Regions from separate parts of the Homo sapiens genome. Here all the other regions are reported to be linked to region 1. Evidence: microRNA targets listed by miRTarBase, many of them from high-throughput screens and not tested one by one. Region 1 holds a microRNA gene; each other region holds the end of a gene's coding sequence.

Region 1 (4,231 bases):
CTTCCTGATTTATCATGCTGCCTTCTTTATACCCAATGGACGAATGCTCAGCTCAGCCTTTTCATGCCAGATGCACTGTGTGGAAGAATTGTAGTTCTCTGCTCCTTGGTTCTCACCTCCCGAGCAGCAGGAGCCGGGCCTTGAGCCAAAACCTGCAGAAGGAAGAAGAGAGGAGAGTTCCCTGCGTAGAGCCATCCATCTGCTGGCTGGTGACACCAACACCAGGGCCCCAGCAGAAAAGCAAGCTTGTTCGCTCTTGTCTGACTGTTAGTAGTGATGTATGAATAAGCAAAGAAGACAGCTTCATTTTCATAAGTTAACTTGTGCCTAGACTAAGGAAGATGGAGAACAGCGCACTTAATCATAACCACAGGCCCAGCTTGGAAAACAATGACAAAGCGTTTTCTGTGAGTCACAGTGTTTTATTACAATAACTCCCAAGAAGACGAGACAGGCAGTGCAGAATGCTGAGCAAGCCAGCACCCTGTAGCCACCTGTGTCATCTCCCCCAAGGAATCCCCTGGGATTTTACCTCTTCACACGATGGCAAGCTGAAGATGTGTTTGCACCATCAAGGTTACAGCTGTAGACTTGGGCCTCTGGAGACCAGGATTTAGATGCCACCTGGATGATGGGCTGGGATTGCTGGAACTGTCACAGATCACCTGTATCATCCATGCTGTCACCTGGTAGCAGAGGGGACTTCTCTCCTAGAAGGGTGTTACCCGACAGAACCCTTATTGGAAAAGCTTTTGGGGAGGCCTGGCTGCAGTGCTGGAAGGGATGTGGTAGGTGACTCGGTGGGAAGGGAGACATCCAACTTGTCTAGCAGGTATCACCCACTTACCCCCACAGAATCAATTACTCCCTACTTATTATTCCCCCATCTTGCTAATATCGCCCTGTCACTGCTAATATCATGCTGCTTCAAAATTGTTTATCTGTCTCCTCTTCTAGCTGCCCCCAGGGCAAGAACTATGTTTTTTTTGTCTTTCATTCCTTAGTATTTTGTGTGGTGTCTGACACAACTCAAACCCTCAATCGATACTAAGCTGAACCAACGTCTCAGCAAACTAAGGGCCATGTCAGCTAAGGACAGGAGGAGATGGCTGAGCTGGAGGTCCAGGCAGATGGAGCAGAGTGTAGGACCAGGGAGTTCTGGGTGCTTCCATAAGAGCAAATGCTTACTGAACGCTTTACTATTTCATCGACGCTTTTAGTGGTAATGTTTGAATAAGCACAAAACACAGCATCATTTTCACAAATTAACTTGTGCTTAGAGGAAAAAAAAAATTAGGTATGTTACTTACTATCTCTATTTTACAAGTGAATGAAGAAGCAAGCACAGAGAGGCTAAGTACCTTGTCCAGGGTCACATAGCTAGTAAGTGGAAGAGCCAGGATTTGAGCCCAGGCGTCTGGCTCTGGTGTTCATTTTCTTCACCACTTTACTGTACTCAGGAAGTATGGCATTGGAGACTACCAATGAATTCTACTGGTTTATGAGGTGAATGTAGACACCATGTGAGTTTATTATGTGCCAGTCACCCTGCAGGTGAAATTTACCCTTGACTAAAGCAGTAACGGAGCTTCCAAACTCCAATCAGTAATTCTCAAACTTTAATGTGCATCTGAATTACCTGGGGAGTTGGTTTATTTCAATGCAAATTACTAGACCCCGTGGCCAGAATTCTTATGCAGAAATATTGTGGAGTGAGGGAATTAATATATTATTTCCCCATATGCACCACCCCCGCCCCTGCCAATATTGAACCAACTTAGAGATAAAGGAGGGAGAGCCAGATGTCACCTTATTTTACTGATAAAGGTGAAATTGGAGGACTCAACTTTAGAGTCCTTCAGTATCTACAATGGCTCTTCCTAGCACCAAAACCCAGAGTTGGAATTGCTCAGCTATCCCAAGAAGTACTAGACAACCACAGCCTCACAGAGGAGGTCTGCTCTATAAAATTTAACAGCGTGAAAGAACAGATTCGATGCAGGCTATCTGTTGGCATGCTGGCTCCTGGAAGAAGGGACAGAGGAAGAGGCTAGGCCACATCAACTTGGTTGCCTCTGAAACTCACCTTTCTCTTCCCCATGGATGTGGAAGGAGTTATCTGTCACCAGTCAGATAACTGTCACCAGTCAGTTAACTCCTTTCACACCCATGGGGAAGAGAAAAGATCGGCTCAAGGTGTCAAGAAATCCCTCCTTCTAGAAACCGGAGAAGTAGGGGAAAGCATCCTCCCACTAATAACTAACTTCTAGGTTGAATGAAGCCCAGGAGCCTGTGCTTTTAGCAAGAATCTCAGGGGTTTCTGAAACAGATAGTCCTCAGACCACACTTAGAGAGGCAGAGTTCGAGAATGGCCTAATGGTTGTGCTGGATGACCTCCAAAGAAAACCTCATGGATAAGCTTGCTGTCTATCAGGGGCTTTCGGGTTAGGATAGGCAGTGACTATCATATGTACAGTGCTTAGAGTTCCAGCTTCTGTTCTAAGAACTTAACATGTATGAAGTCATTCCAGCATGTGAAGTCACAGCAGCTGTAAGAGTTAGATACCAAGGCAGAGATAGGTTAAGCAATTTTTTTCACGGCTACGCAGCTAGAAGGTGGCAGGGCTAGGAACCGGAACCAGGCAGCCTGAGTTCAGTCCACACTCTTTATCTCCAACTATATTGATGTTCATGGTTCCCTCTTCACACAGAAGCTGGGAAGGCACAGCCTGAAAGCAAAACTCAACACCGTTGAGAGGCTAAGCAACATCGCTTACCCTTACTACTGTTTTGATCATTGATATGGCAGCTAATGAATTTCTTTTAAAAAGCAAAATGAAGTCTCAGTAGCTGCTGATTATTCTGTTTTTTTCTCACCAATGGATATTAAAGTTCTAACTATCATGTTGCTAATTAAGGAATTTTTTAAGAGGATTGGCGTGCCTGAGAGGGTTAAGTGGTACTATCAAAAGCAATGCAGCCCAGGTACAAACTGAATGAAGAGCAATTTGGATATTATTCTTTGGGATAACGTGACTTTAGGTTAACCATGAAAATCATTCCTTCTCTGGAGATGAAGACCTTGAGTTTAAGCCTTATGTAGAGCACCCCAAGTGGGTGCTGCCTCCCCATCTTTGCAGTTTTCCATACAGGGGAGCGGGTGCCTGAGTTCCCAGAGCTGGGTGGAAGGTCTGTTAATATTGGTGACTACAGAGAGGGTGAAATGATTTATGAGGACACTAACACACACCCGATCAGGAAGGTTAACCCACTAGATGTCATTTATTTAGCAGACATTTATTAAGCACCTACTGTGTGTTCAGTACTACACCTTGTAGTATCTTGCCCTTGGAATAATGCAGGAAGTGGTTATTTATAAATGAGGTCTGTGGGTGCCTGAATATTGCCAACTTCATCTTTTATGGAGTGTAAGTCAGCTGCTGGCAAAATACCCGTAGGAGCCAGGCATGGTGGCTCACGCCTGTAATCCTAGCACTTTGGGAGGCTGCGGTGGGAGGATCGCCTGAGGTTAGGAGTTCGAGATCAGCCTGGTCAACATGGCGAAACCCTGTCTCTGCTAAAAATACAAAAATTAGCCAGACATGGTGGCAGGTGTCTGTAATCCCAGCTACTCAGGAGGCTGAGGCAGGAGAATCGCTTTAACTCGGGAGGCGAAGGTTGCAGTGAGCCGAGATGGCGCCATTTGCACTCCAGCCTGGGCGACAGAGCAAGACTCCATCTCAAAAAACAAAACAAAGCAAACAAACAAACAAAAAACAGTAGGAAGTACTAAATAGTGATGTCTTCCATCTAATATGGGAATGAAGATAAAGTAATAGTTCAGACTTGGGCTTATTCATAAAAGGCTTCATGCTGGAGATGGACCTTGAAAGGATTGTGGGTGGGGATTGGCAGGGGGGGCAAGGGCAATGCCTGCCAAGGGAGAGCTATATGAGCAAGGTAGAAATTAGACCACAGGCAACAAAATATTTTTGTTTGGCAGGAATAAAGTGTAGCTCGTAGAGTATTTGTCTGAAGAAGTAAACAGGCAAAATAAAATGTATGGGATGCCACCATATAAAATTTGGCCTTTCAGATATCTGAAGATGACCTTACCTGAAATTTAGATGGACCCCCTAAATTCAATAAAAGATCCTTCCCAGGCTGGGCGCAGTGGCTCACGCTTGTAATCCCAGCACTTTGGGAGGCCGAGGCAGGCGGATCACAAGGT
Region 2 (4,231 bases), not on the chromosome of region 1:
TGAGCCACCGCACCTGGCTAATATTCTGCTTTTTACTCAAAAACTAAGTTTTGGCTGGGCGCAGTGGCTCACACCTGTAATCCCAGCACTTTGGGAGGCCGAGGCAGGCAGATCACTTGAGCTCAGGAGTTTGAGACCAGCCTGGCCAACATGACGAAACCCCATCTCTACTAAAAATACAAAAAAATTAGCTGGGCATGGTGGCGGATGCCTGTAATCTCAGCTACTTGGGAGACTGAGGCAGGAGAATTGCTTGAACCTGAGGGGTGGACGTTGCAGTGAGCTGAGATCACGCCACTGCAGTCCAGCCTGGGTGACAGAAATCCTGTCTCAAAAAAAAAACAAAAAAGTTTTATCTAATAGTCATAAAAAAGGAAGCCAAGTGAAAAATTACTTAAACCAAGTGTGTTGATACATTAAGCTATGAGACATCTAAAATAATGAAACTTGGAACTTAGTGGAACATGTACATGTTTTCAGCATACTTAAACCCAAAAATCATTAATTTTCAGAACTTAATCAGTGCTTTTACATTTGTTTTTTCTTTTATGCTAGTTGGAAATGGAGGATGAAGATACAATTGATGTGTTCCAACAGCAGACGGGAGGTGTCTACTGAAAAGGGAACCTGCTTCTTTACTCCAGAACTCTGTTCTTTAAAGACCAAGATTACATTCTCAATTAGAAAACTGCAATTTGGTTCCACCACATCCTGACTACTACCGTATAGTTTTCTCTATTCTTTCATTTCCCCCTTCCCCATTCCTTTATTGTACATAAAGTAACTGGTATATGTGCACAAGCATATTGCATTTTTTTTTTTTTTAACTAAACAGCCAATGGTATGTTTTGATTGACATCAAGTGGAGACGGGATGGGGAAAAATACTGATTCTGTGAAAATACCCCCTTTCTCCATTAGTGGCATGCTCATTCAGCTCTTATCTTTATATTCCAGTAAGTTATTTTGCTCTCACTGTTTTAACAAAAAAAAAAAACAACAACATAAAAATCCTTGCATACCTTGTTCAATTGGAGAATTTTAATGTTTTTCATTTATCATTGTAAAACCAAGGACAATTTTATAACTTTTTTGTACGTAGCTGTTACATGTAGGGCAATCTGTCTTTAAGTAGGGATAAATTACTCTAAAACAAAAAAGAATCCTAGATAGTTTTCCCTTCAAGTCAAGCGTCTTGTTGTTTAAATAAACTTCTTGTTTAAAATGAGCTGTTTTCTTTATTCTGAGAAATATTAAATAGAAAATTGAGGCTTAGAAAAAACATAAATAGGCCTGCTTAGAAGTAACATTTCAAGAAGGAAATAAAGCTACTTGGTGTTTCTGACAGACTGATACTGATGCCAAACAAAGAATAACAGTTTTATAAATATCACCTTGTTCCAAAAGTTTCTCTAGGTCCCATGTTAATATGCAAGTATACTAGCAGAAAAATTGGGCCATAGTATCGTGGATTTCCAGGTATTTTCTGTATATTAAGTGAGGCACGGAGCATAGGGTATAGGGTAGCACATGTGGCAAGGAAAAAGTTCTGATTTTGCCTTTGTTGCTGATAAAACACTGAACCATTCTAGCCTGCACTTATCATAAGTAAATACTCCCTAACCTAAAATAAAGTTTTCGTTCCTTATTCAAGGATTTTTTTTTTGAGACGGAGTTTTCCTCTTGTTGCCCAGGCTGGAGTGTAGTGGTGCAATTTCAGCTCACTGCAACCTCAGCCTCCTGAGTAGCTGGGGGGTCATAGGTGCATGCCACCACGCCCAGCTAATTTTTTTTCTATTTTTAGTCGAGACAGGGTTTTATCACGTATGCCAGGCTGGTCTCGAACTCCTGACCTTAGGTGATCCACCCGCCTCAGCCTCCCAAAGTGCAGGGATTACGGCATGAGCCACCACGCCTGGCCTATTCAAGAATATTGAGGGACAGAAAATATCTATATATATCCATCCTCAGAACCTTAAATATACAGGTCACTACAGTCTTTATTATTTTAATTTTTGTTTCTTAGGGTTTCTTTTGGTGGTGGTTTTTTGAGATGGAGCATCATTCCGTCTCCCAGGCTGTAGTGCAGTGGCACAATCTTGGCTCACTGCAAGCTCCGCCTCCCGGGTTCACGCCATTCTCCTGCCTCAGCCTCCCGTCTTAGGTCTTTTTGAAAGAGGTTATGCCTCTGTTGCCTAGTCTGGAGTGGTGCAATGGTGTGATCTTGGCTCACTGCAACCTCCACCTCCAGGTCTTAAGAGATCCTCCCTGCTCAGCCTCGTGAGTAGCTAGAACCGCAGGTGCATGCCACCACAGCTAATTCTTGTATTTTTTATAGAGAGTGTTTCGCCATATTGTCCAGGCCGGGCTCAAACCCCTGATCTTAAGTGATCTATCTGCCTTAGCCTCCCAATGTGCTGGGTTTACAGGCGTGAGCCACTATGCCCAGCCCCTTTTTAATTTTTTAAAAATGTTTATTTTTGAGATGGAGTTTCGCTCTTGTTGCCCCAACTGGAGACCAATGACATGATCTCAGCTCACTGCAACCTCCGCCTCCCGGGTTCAACTGATTCTCCTCCCTCAGCCTCCGGAAAAGCTGGGATTACAAGCATCTACCATCATACCTGGCTAATTCTGTATTTTTAGTAGAGAAGGGGTTTCTCTATGTTGGTCAGGCTGGTCTCCACCTCCCGACCTCAGGTGATCTGCCTGCCTTGGCCTCCCAAAGTGCTGAGATTACAGGCTTGAGCCACTGTGCCCGGCCAAATTTTTATTATTTTTAAATTAGAGGTGGGGTCTCACCATGTTGACCAGTTTGGTCTCGAACTTCTGGCCTCAGTCCCTTGTCTTGGCCTCCCAAAGTGTTGGGGTTTCAGGTGTTAGACCCCATGCCCAACCACTACAGTTTTTGTTTTTGTTTTTGTTTTTTTTTCAGACGGAGTCTTGCTCTGTCGCCCAGGCTGGAGTGCAGTGGCGCAATCTTGGCTCACGGCAAGCTCCACCTCCCGGGTTCACGCCATTCTCCTGCCTCAGCCTCCCCAGTAGCTGGGACTAAAGGTGCCCGCCACCATGCCCGGCTAATTTTTTTGTATTTTTAGTAGAGACAGGGCTTCACCATGTTAGCCAGGCTGGTCTCAAACTCCTGACCTCAGTTCATCCACCCGCCTTGGCCTTCCAAAGTGCTGGGATTACAGGCATGATCCACTGCGCCCGGCCTCACTGCCATTTTATAGATGAGAAAGCCAAGTTCCAGAAAAGTTGTGAAATAGACGGTGACTATAAAACTGGGACTAGAGATAGTATCCTAATGCTTGTTGATTGTTTTTGTCCATACTGATTGTCAACCTACCAATATAATCTACCATCAAGTCACCATGTAGTATTATGTGTTATTTCTCTTAATCTGCTGTACCTTTGTTTTTTGTTTTTTTGAGACGGAGTCTTGCTCTGTTGCCCAGGCTGGAGTGCAGTAGCGCGATCTCGGCTCACTGCAAGCTGCCTCCCGAGTTCACGCCATTCTCCTGCCTCAGCCTCCTGAGTAGCTGGGAGTACAGGCACCCACCACCATGCCCGGCTAATTTTTTGTATTTTTAGTAGAGACGGGGTTTCACCGTGTTAGCCAGGATGGTCTCGATCTCCTGACCTCATGAGCTGCCCGCCTCAGCCTCCCAAAGTGGTGGGATTACAGGCGTGAGTCACCGCGCCCGGCTGCTGTACCTTTGTTTTGATACACTCTTTACATTCCCTGTTTCTATAGCAAATGAGCATTGCCAGTGACAACAGGAATGCAGTAGATTTTTCTTTATGTTTGTATATGTATGAATTTTACTCTTGAATCAGCTAGACTAATTTTCCTATATGTACAGTGCCACCAGCTTGTTTTTTTAAAATTTGTGGGGTTTTTTTGTTTGTTTGGTTTTGGAGACAGAGCCTCCCAAGTAGCTGGAATTACAGGCGCCCACCACTATGCCTGGCTGATTTTTTTGTATTTGTAGTAGAGACGGGGTTTCACTGTGTTGGCCAGGCTGGTCTCAAACTCCTGACCTCAGGTGATGCGCCTACCTTGGCCTCCCAAAGTGCTAGGATTACAGGCGGGAGCCACCGCGCCCTGTTTATTTTACTTTTTTTTTTGAGATGGAGTCTCACTCTGTTGCCCAGGCTGGAGTTCAGTGGCGCAATCTTGACTCACTGCAAGCTATGCCTCCCGGGTTCACGCCATTCTTCTGCATCAG
Region 3 (4,231 bases), not on the chromosome of region 1:
TTCCTCATCCCTAAATGGAGCTGATGACAGCAATCCCATTACAGACTGAGGAGGACTCCAGTGGGCACAGGGCAAGTGCCTGCTGAGGAACAGCAGTCATGGGTGGACAGGCCTTTCAGAGGGAGGGGCTAAGCAGAGACATCTAGAGGCCCTTGCAGCCCACAGCACCCCAAAACCATCAGCATCAGCATCTCCCTGTCCTCCATCGCTACCCCTTTTAAGCTGCTTCTGAAACTGGCAATCACTTGATCTCTATTCTAGTGCTATGAGTAATACAATTTCCACTCCCGTTGTCCAGATGGGGAAGCTGAGCCTCAGGGGAATCAAGTAGCCAGTCCAGGGTGAAGCAGCCAAAAAGTCACAACCAAGACACCATGCATGCTCTCCTTCCAGGGTCCCTGGGATCAGAGCAATTCCTGGGAGAGTACATGGTTCACCAGGTCCAGTTGACAGGGCAGGGCCAGGTGGGAGGGAGCCTCTGACCTGGAGGGTAGGCAGGGGGCAGCCTCTGGTCTGGAGGCTCAGACCAGAGATGGTCTCAGCTGCCTGAGGCCAGCAGCATGGGCCCCCTCACACTGCCCAGCCCGGCTGGCCTGGGGTGGGAGGGGCCTCCATTTCCCACAGGTGACATTCCCCAGGTTTCTAAATGACCTAGAGGATAGCAACAGGGAATTAATGAGGAGATGCCAGTATCCTCTTGGAATCTCACTCCTCAGGGAATCAAGAAATTTGGCAGGTCTGATTTTTCTCTAAAGACAGCAGATTAAAAAAAAAGAAGACCGGGCACGAAGGCTCACACCTGTAATCCCAGCACTTTGGAAGGCCGAGGCGGGTGGATCACCTGAGGTCTGGAGTTTGAGACCAGCCTGGCCAACACGGTGAAACCCCATCTCTACTACAAATACAAAAATTAGCTGGGCATGGTGGCAGATGCCTGTAATCCCAGCTACTCAGGAGGCTGAGGAAGGAGAATCGCTTGAACCCAGGAGGCAGAGGTTGCAGTGAGCAGAGATCGCACCATTACACTCCAGCCTGGGGGAGAACGAGACTGTCTCAAAAAAAAAAAAAAGAAGAAGAAGAAGAAGAAGAAAACAGAAAAGCTGTAAAAGAAAAAAGCAAGCCAGATGCGGTGGCACACGTCTGTAATCCCAGCTACTCAGGAGGCTGAGGAACGAGAATTCCTTGAACCTGGGAGGTGGAGGTTGCAGTGAGCAGAGATCGTACCCTGCACTCTAGCCTGGGTGACAGAGCGAGACTGTCTCAAAAAAAAAAAAAAGAAAAAGAAAAAAGAAAAATAAAAGAAAAAAGAAAACTGGTGTTCCTATTCAGGCTGGCCTCTGTGAGCCCAAACACCCTGTGTTCACCAACTTGATGCTTATGCTTGGGCCCTCCTTGCCTGCCACCATGTCCCTTTAAGGGACTCGAAGGCTTGGCTGGATCTGAGTTAGAGGCTGAGCCATCAGCTTCCATTGAGAAGCAATCCCAGCTAAGAATGACTGCCTTCACTGGGTAGAGCTTTCAGCATTTGTATCAGCAGCCGCTGGCTCACTGAGGAAATTAATGTTTAGCTCGGGCCAGCTCCTGAAAGGGTTCCTATGACCTGAAGCTGAGCCCACACGTGGGGATCACTGCCACCACCCAGCGCTGCAGGATCGTGGGAAGCGGCTGGGCTCCCTCCGGCAGGACAGCTCATCTTCCACAGTCTCGTCCTGTGCTGGAGGCAGAGTGCACCCAGGGATCTTATGCCCCTATTGCAGGGGTGAGGGGCCCAGGACAGCATGAGCCGGGAGAATGGCCAAGGGCTAGTGGCACGCACCCTGGCCTTTCCCAGGCCCTAAACACAGAGGGTGTGTTGGGCACAAAGCCCTTCTCTGGCATCTACCCCAGTACCCTGCCAGGCTGGCCGGGATACCCTCTCTCGTGGCAGGACCTCATGCCGATCCTGCCCCTATTTGCTGCGGGAAGACCCCGCCCCCAGCTCAGCTTCTCAGGAGATTAAACCAGCACCAGATGAGACACTCCTCCCGCCCGTTCCTTCCCTTCACTGCAGGGTCTGCAGGGCCTGGCTCAAACTGCTCCCAGTGTCTCTGTCCCACCATCACCTCCCACAGAGTGCCTTCCGTGTCACCTGTTTTCATAGCGATTCCACACAATGACAGTGTGGCAGCAACCCACAGACACTCGCTCTGCAGGAAGCCCTGCTCCAAGGCCCTCAAGGATGACCTCGCTTAAGCTAGACGCCTGCCGGCTTCGAGGAAGGACTTCTCCCCATCCCTTGCATGCTGGTGAGCACACAGCTGCCCCCAGGAGAAACAGGACTCAAACCAAGGCTGTCTGTTCCCACCATGCAGGCTTTGGTGTTTACAGTTAACAGTTTTTTGGAGGACTCCACCATTTAGACATGGATGTCATGCCTGGTTGGCGATCATTTTTTTTTTTTTTTTGAGACGGAGTCTCACTGTTGCCCAGGCTGGAGTACAGCGGCATGATCTTGGCTCACTGCAGCCTCTGTCTCCCAGGTTCAAGTGATCCTCCTACCTCAGCCTCCCAAGTAGCTGGGATTACAGGTGTGCACCACCATGCCTGGCTCATTTTTTGTATTTTTAGTAGGGATGGGGTTTCACTTGTTAGCCAGGATGGTCTCGATCTCCTGACCTCATGATCTGCCCACCTCGGCCTCTCAAAGTGCTGGGGTTACAGGCATGAGCCACTGTGCCCGGCCAGGACTGACTTTCACATTGCCCAGGCTGGTCTTGAATTGGGCTCAAGCCATCTGCCCACCTCAGCCCTCCTAAAGTGCTGGGATTATAGGCATGAGCCACCATGCCCGGGCCTGGTTGGCAATCTTCATACATATCATCACTCATCAGTGCCAGGAGAGTAACACTGTCCTGACTCCATGGGGAGGGGGCCATTCTCCTGGACTCTGCCTTAGTACATGTCTCTTCCCTTGGCTTATCTTAATCTGTATCTTTCCCCTATAATAAACTGTAACTGTGAGCATAACAGCCTTCAGCGACTTCTATAAGTCTTTCTGGCAAAATTGACCGAGGGTGGTTTGGGAGGCCCCCTTTGTTGCACCTGGTGTCAAAAGTAAGAGCAGGCTTGTGTGGAGACTGCACCCTCAGACTCTGCAGGTTGACCTATGCTCCACACAGCACTGTCAAAAGGTCCCTGGGTGATTCTGAAGTATAACCATGTTTGGGAACCACCATGTTGGTCTAACCATGGTTACTGTCCCCATTTTGCAGACTGGTTCAATAATTTGCTCCAGGTTAACTGCAAATAGAAGGCAGAGCCAGGATTTGACTCCAGAGCACACCAGCCACCTGCTGCCCACCCAGACTTCCCTGGAAGACACGGTGACCTTCACCCAGTGGGAAGAGGTGGGACTGCATTCCCCCATGACCTTTCCGGACCCAGAGTGGCCGTGGGCTGCCAGGGACTCACCTGGCTGGGCTCAGCAGGTGCTCCTCACGCGGGCAGGTGCTTCCAGGTGCTGACAAAGGCCGTGGGGATAAGTGAGTAGGGCACTGTGGTGATGCAGTTCCATGTATCTGAAGTGGGGTCATAGCAGTCCAGAGTCTTACACCTCTGGGTCCCAAAGTAGCCCCCGACCACATAGAGCTTGTTGCCGGAAGCCAGGGCATGGCAGGACATGCGCTTGGCAGTCATGTCCCCAATCCGCGTCCACTGGTTGGTCTCACAGTCAAAGCGGTAGGCCGAGGCGGCTGTGAATTCCGTGTCACCTCCCATGATGAAGATCTGGCTGCCCAGGACGGCAGCGGCTGTGTACCGCCAAGGCTGGGGGCACTCGGCCTTGATCGTCCACCTGTTCTCCGAGGGGTCATAGCACTGGACCTTGGACACCATGTCCCGGTGGATGCTGGTTCCTCCGAAAACAAAGAGCTTCAGCTTGGCACTCACCACTGCGGCATTGCTGACGCCATCCCGCAAGGGGGCCACCATCATCCACTTGTTGGCCCCAGGGTCGTATTTCTCCACTTGTTTCAGGGAGACAGAAGGCGAGGCCGGGAAGACCCCTGCCAGGGATGTGTGTCCCCCCACCACATAGAGGCAGTTCTCCAGCTCAGCTGAGCCATGGCCAAAGCGGGCAATCAGCATGGGCGCCGCCTTGGACCATTCCTCATGTACGGTGTCGTACACCCAGACATCCTTGGAGACCCCGTTCTCGGAGCCCCTGCCCCCCGTCACATAGACCTTGCAGCCG

The links. The annotated mature microRNA hsa-miR-4764-5p reads UGGAUGUGGAAGGAGUUAUCU and lies in region 1 at 2,101-2,121, shown strand. An mRNA with a match to its seed (bases 2 to 7 or 8) in the 3' UTR can be bound and repressed. Matches are read on the target gene's strand: a 7mer-m8 pairs with bases 2 to 8, a 7mer-A1 pairs with bases 2 to 7 and ends in A, and an 8mer does both.
Region 2: the mRNA of SUMO2 is a reported target of hsa-miR-4764-5p. Seed matches in the 3' UTR shown: 7mer-m8 at 706-712.
Region 3: miRTarBase lists KLHL25 as a target of hsa-miR-4764-5p. The part of its 3' UTR that is shown has no 7-base or 8-base seed match.

The regions. Positions count from the first base shown.
Region 1 is chr22:33,434,530-33,438,760 of GRCh38, reverse strand. It overlaps MIR4764 (microRNA 4764), which reads left to right and starts at 2,092; the gene lies at 2,092-2,179. All of the region lies in intron 6 of LARGE1 (LARGE xylosyl- and glucuronyltransferase 1), which reads left to right. RefSeq lists an enhancer at 1-913.
Region 2 is chr17:75,164,726-75,168,956 of GRCh38, reverse strand. It overlaps SUMO2 (small ubiquitin like modifier 2), which reads left to right. Exons shown (of 4, transcript NM_006937.4): 4 at 556-3,371. The coding sequence ends at 618. Among named protein-coding and RNA genes, the nearest start is that of JPT1, 12 kb to the right of the region's middle.
Region 3 is chr15:85,764,567-85,768,797 of GRCh38, forward strand. KLHL25 (kelch like family member 25) reads right to left here. Exons shown (of 3, transcript NM_022480.4): 2 at 3,451-4,231. The coding sequence ends at 3,475. Among named protein-coding and RNA genes, the nearest start is that of MIR1276, 3.9 kb to the right of the region's middle. RefSeq lists enhancers at 1-288, 3,220-3,994, 3,995-4,231.